Regions from separate parts of the Homo sapiens genome. Here region 2 is linked to region 1. The links come from fine-mapping of genetic effects on plasma protein levels. A gene starts in region 1. The other region holds a variant in brackets. All regions are shown on one strand. Distances are between the middles of the regions.

What was found. PIP is the chance, under the fine-mapping model, that this variant and not a neighbour inherited with it causes the effect. The UK Biobank Pharma Proteomics Project read protein levels with antibody pairs (Olink). The fine-mapping took linkage between variants from a reference panel, not from the people measured, so its PIPs are less certain.
Region 2: its variant is fine-mapped to the plasma level of the CES2 protein (UK Biobank, PIP above 0.99).

The regions. Positions count from the first base shown.
Region 1 is chr16:66,933,796-66,936,624 of GRCh38, reverse strand. It overlaps CES2 (carboxylesterase 2), which reads right to left and starts at 1,109. Exons shown (of 12, transcript NM_001365405.1): 1 at 914-1,109. The coding sequence starts at 989. CIAO2B (cytosolic iron-sulfur assembly component 2B) reads left to right here and starts at 2,223. Exons shown (of 5, transcript NM_016062.4): 1 at 2,223-2,402; 2 at 2,559-2,638. The coding sequence starts at 2,261. RefSeq lists enhancers at 887-1,499, 2,338-2,537, 2,568-2,617.
Region 2 is chr16:67,511,832-67,514,731 of GRCh38, reverse strand. No RefSeq gene overlaps it. Among named protein-coding and RNA genes, the nearest start is that of RIPOR1, 16 kb to the left of the region's middle. RefSeq lists silencers at 1-80, 213-400. The variant C/A (reference allele first, on the strand shown) is at 1,462.

The DNA of each region.
Region 1 (2,829 bases):
ACAGAGCCTTCACCTTTGCCCTGGAAGCCAAGTTGTGCCCTTGCCCAGGATGAGGTAAATGGCATGAGGGACACCACGAGCTCTTTGGTTCTTGTTTCTGGAGACAGATTTTTGCTTTTTCACCCAGGCTGGAGTGCAGTAGTGGGATGAAGGCTCACTGCAGCCTCAACCTCCCCTACTAAAGTGATCTCCCACCTCAGCCTCCCAAGTAGCTGGGACTACAGGTCACAGACCACCACAGCCCACTAATTTCTTTCAATTTTTTGTACACTCCGAGTCTCACTATGTTGTCCAGGCTGGCCTCCAACTCCTGGGCACAAGCGATACTCTCCCTTGGCCTTCTAAAGTGGTGGGATTAAAGGAGTGAGCCAATCGCACCCAGCCACTGTGGCCTCTTAGATCTGCTTTAGGATTTGGCGCCTGGGGGCTTCTGTTCCCCAAGGACCACTATCCTTGTCTGAGGCCCCTTTGGAGGGCTCAGGGCATCCCCCCTGGCCAAGGACGCCACACACTGAGAGCCAGATGCTGCCAGAAGCTATTACTGTTATTACCGGCCGGCAGCACCCGCTACAGCCACAATCATAAGAGGGAAATGGACTGAATCCCCACACCCCAATCCCTCACCCACTCCGACCCCAGGCTGCCTACCCGGCCTGGCATGTCCCGGCGCTCCTGGGGCCCCTGTACTCCGCTGGTTCCTTGCCGTGGTGTCCCCCAGCCCGACCCTTTCTGTGCTTCTAGGAGCCCACCTTGGGCGGCGGGGAGGCGTTGCGTGGGGCTCACGAGTTCCACGCTGTCATCTCCACCAGCTCCTACCTCCCAGGCGCCTGCCCTCCCGCACTGTCAGGTTCTGCCTCCGCAGCATTTGGCAGATCTGAGCCCGGTCCCTGTCGCCCCTCCGAGGGAGCCTCACCCTGGCCCCGGACAAGAAGCAGCAGAAGCCCACAGGCCACCGCGCTCAGCCGCGCACGAAGTCTGTGCAGCCGCATGGTCGGCTCGCTGGTCTCGGTTCGCTGCCGGCGGACACGCTGCTGTTCACCCAGAGGCTGCCCCGGGTCTGTCCAGCAGTGGATCAGTGCCTTGCCCAGCCTTGGAGTTTGGACTGGGCAGGGAGTCAGCGGGGTGCGCTGGCTTGGGCCGGGAAAGGTGGGTGTGGTAGGAGAGCGGGACTGAGCAGTCATAGGTGGGTGGGGATCTAGTGGTAGGCAGGCCCGGGCACGGCCACTTTCCTTTGCCCGGGCTCCTTTGGCATCCTCGGAAGGGGCTGTGCCATTCCTGCAGCCCTTCCGCGATCCAGGGAATCCTCTCTTCAAACCTGTCCTTGTCCACAGGCCCGATGAGCGCGCTGGGGGATCGATAGGAGGGGGCAATAAACTAGAATTGGAGACCCCAGGAGGGCTTCTCTGAGGATGTGCACGTTCAGGATCCCCCAGATGGAGAAATGGGAAGGAACTTGATCGGGGTGAAGGAACCGCTTGAGCAAAGGCAGGAAGGAGTGTCGGCGCCCTTCATTCTGGAAGTTCCTCCTTGCTTTCAGGACTCAGTTTCCTGGGTTCCCCTTCACGGCCCCTCATCTCCTTACAGTCCAGGGTCTGAGGGTCTCCGCGGTCCCCTCCCTACTCAGTCACGCCATTCTTTTGAAACGTACACGTGACCGCGGCACTTCTTAAGGAGCGCCCCCCTTTTCCTCGGTGGCTTTCAGTTTCCTCACCTCCCGCGGAGACCACGGCCATGGTCATTTATCCACTTGACAAACATTTCACGAGCCCCTGCCGGTCCAAGCTGTGGGGACGCCGTACTCCCGGGCCTATGGTGCAGCAGGGGAGGCAGGCGCGTCACCGGGAGGTCCCGAGACACTAGGATCCCTGCCAGGCCAGAGGCGACCAACCGTCCTGGATACGGGAGCTCCCGGCCAGCCTGACTTCCAGGAGGAAGCGGTGTGGGGATTACCTCCGACCGCCTTTAGTGCCCCCTGAGACCTGGTTCTGGCCTCTACGTTTCAGCCCGCTACTGGCTCGCACGACCCAGCGCCGCCGTGGTCCCTTCTCAGCGCCTTCTGCTCCAGCGACCATCATGTTCCCGGGTCCGAGCAGCCAGGGCCGCGGTCACCGCTTCTCTCGCACCTCAGGCCGAGAACCCACAACGCGGCGTGTCCCTCGCGCGACTCCGTCGCCACGCCACGCCCCCTTCCCGTTCTCCGGAAGTGCGCGGGTTGGAGCGGAAGCGCACGCCTGCTAGGATCAGCGGTGGTGGTTCCGCGATGGTAGGCGGCGGCGGGGTCGGCGGCGGCCTCCTGGAGAATGCCAACCCCCTCATCTACCAGCGCTCTGGGGAGCGGCCTGTGACGGCAGGCGAGGAGGACGAGCAGGTTCCCGACAGCATCGACGCACGCGAGATCTTCGATATCCGCCGCTGCTGGGCGCGGGCGGGTTCCGGGGGCTTGCGGTGGGGGGAGCAGTGATATCGAGCAGCTGGTGGAGCCGCATCCCAGCAGGGCGTTCCTGGCAGAGGGTTCTAAGTGGGCAAGGGCGCAGAGTCCCTTTTCCTTCACTTCCCACATCTGATTCGCTCCATCAATGACCCGGAGCATCCACTGACGCTAGAGGAGTTGAACGTAGTAGAGCAGGTGCGGGTTCAGGTGAGTCACTTCCGAGGGGAGCGAGTTGTTCCAGAGAGTCAGAAAGGTTTCTGTGCAGCAGGAGCTGGCGTGCTCTATGCTCACGAACACCGAAGGGTATCTTTGGGGAGGGAGATTGTTGTGCCTATTTTATGGGTGTTGAAACTGAGGCCCATAGAAGTTGGATGATTTGCCCAAAACAACAAACTAAG
Region 2 (2,900 bases), 580 kb before region 1:
AAAGTTTCAGTTCCTTGATACTACCTGGGAGGCCTGATGGTTGGTTTCCTGAGAAAGGAACTAATCAATAGATCGGAGCAAGAACAGAGCTGTAGGGCTATAACCCCCGTGAACTGAGAAGACCAAGTGAGAAGTTCCCAGGAAGTCCCAAAAGGAGAGCAAGCGTAAACATGCACCCACAAGGGGGCGTGCATTTACTGTCTTTCAATTAAAAACAATTTTTTTTTTGAGTCAGCGTCTTGGTCTGGTGTGCAATGGTGCAATCACAGTTCACTGTAACCTCCAACTCCTGAGCTCAAGCGATCCTCCCGCCTCAGCCTTCCAAGTAGCTAGGACCACAGGCTCGTGCCACCATACCTGGCTAATTTTATTTTTTAATTTTAATGATTTTTTTTTTTGAGACAGGGTCTTGCTCTGTCACTCAGGCTGCAGTGCAGTGACATGATCATGGCTCACTGCAGCCTCAACCTCTTGGACTCAAGCAATCCTCCCATCTTAGCCTCCAAAGTAGCTGGGATCACAGGCATGTACCACCACACCTGGCTAATTTTTGTATTTTTTTGTAAGACATGGTCTCGCTATGTTGCCTAGGCTCATCTCCCATTCTGAGGCTCAAGAGCTCCACCTGCTTCAGCCCCTGCAAAGTGCTGGGATTACAGGTGTGAGCCACAGTGCCCAGCCCATTTGAGTATATTATTTGGATAAATATTTATTTTACACAGTTTTTTTTTGTAGAAATGGGGTCTTGCTATATTGCCCAGGCTGGTCTCAAACTCCTGGGCTCAAGCAATCCTCCCACCTCAGCCTCCCAAGTAGCTAGGACTACAGGTGTGTACTACCACACTTGGCTCTTTACCCACTTTTGCACTGAGTTGTTTGATTTGCAAATATTTTTTCCCATCCTGTGGATTGTCTTGTCTTTTCACTCTCTTTTTTTTTTTTTTGAGCCGGAGTCTTGCTCTGTCACCCAGGCTGGAGTGCAGTGGCACAATCTCGGCTCACTGCAAGCTCCGCCTCTTGGGTTCAAATGAGGCTACTCCTCCTGAGTAGCTGAGATTACAAGCGTGTGCCACAATACCCAGCTAATTTTTGTATTTTTAGTAGAGACAGTATTTCACCATGTTGGTCGGGCTGGTCTTGAACTCCTGACCTCATGATCTCCCCGCCTCAGCCTACCTAAGTGCTGGGATTACAGGCTTGAGACACCGCGCTACCATACTCAGCCTTTTTTTTTTTTTTTTGAGATGGAGTCTCGCTCTGTCGCCAGGCTGGACTGCAGTAGGGCGATCTTGGCTCACTGCAACCTCCACCTCCTGGGTTCAGGTGATTCTCCCGTCTCAGCCTCCCAAGTAGCTGGGACTAAAGGCGTGCTCCAACACACCCGGATAATTTTTGTATTTTTAGTAGAGATGGGGTTTCACCATGTTGGCCAGGATGGTCTCAATCGCTTGACCTCGTGAT[C/A]CGCCCACCTGGGCCTCCCAAAGTGCTGGGATTACAGGCGTGAGCCACCACGCCTGGCCGAGTCTTTTCTTTTTAAATTATTTTTAAACTTCTTTTTTTGTTTGTTTTTTTGAGACAGCATCTCACTCTGTTGCCCAGGCTGAAGTGCAGTGGCATGACCATAGCTCCTTGCAGCCTTGAACTCCTGGGCTCAAGGGATCCTCCCACCTCAGCCTCCCGAGTAGCTGGGCCAACAGGTGCATGTCACCACTCCTGGTTAATTTTTTTTTTTTTTTTTTTTTTTGAGACGGAGTTTCACTCTATCGCCCAGGCTGGAGTGCAGTGGCGTGATCTTGGCTCACTGCAAGCTCTGCCTCCCGGGTTCACGCCATTCTCCTGCCTCAGCCTCCCAAGTAGCTGGGACTACAGGCGCCCGCCACCACGCCCGGCTAATTTTTTGTATTTTTAGTAGAGACGGGGTTTCATCGTGTTAGCCAGGATGGTCTCGATCTCCTGACCTTGTGATCCGCCCGCCTCAGCCTCCTAAAGTGCTGGGATTACAGGCGTGAGCCACCGCGCCTGGCCCACTCCTGGTTAATTTTTAAATATTCTGTAGAGATGGGATCTTCCTATGTTTCCCAGGCTGGGCAACATAACAACATAATAACATAACATAAAATAATTTTAAAGGTGATAGGCCGGGTGTGGGGACTCATGCCTGTAATCCCAGCATTTAGGGATGCTGAGGTGGAAGGATTGCTTGAGCCCCGGAGTTCGAGACTAGCCTGGGCAACATAGAGAGCCTCAGCCTCACCTGATCTCCCTTCCTTCTCCTCCCTGGGGTTCACGGCTGGCCACCAGCCTGTCCTGTCATTCCTGTCATCTGCCTGACTCCCTCCTGCACAGAGGTTCAACAGCAGGCCAGCTTCAGGTTCCTGCACCTCTGGCAAAACATCTTGCCTCTTTTTACTTGTCAAAATGATGACAGAATGACTTCAAAGATACATTCACAAAAGCCACCTTCCTATCCCATCACTGAGGCTTCACCAGAGAGCTTACTACCCCAGGGCTGCGTACACCGTCGCCCTCACAGCAGGGTTCTAACTTTGCCTCCCCCATCGCCTGAGAGTGAGATGGAGAGCTCTGGGCAGGTGGACCCCCTCCAGATTAGTTCAGAAAGTCTGCATAACTACAATTGTTTTTTAAAAAAAAACCTTGCAATGTGGGTATAAATTTTTGCCCCAGGACCAGGCACAGTTACTCATGCCTGTAGTCCCAGCACTTTGGGAGGCCAAGGCAGGTGGATCGCTGGAGGCCAGGAGTTCAAGACCAGCCTGGCCAACATGGCAAAAACCTGTCTCTGCTAAAAATACAAAAATCACGGCCTGGCGTGGTGGCTCATGCTTGTAATCCTAGCACTTTGGGAGGCCGAGGCTGGCAAATTGCCTAAGCTCAGGAGT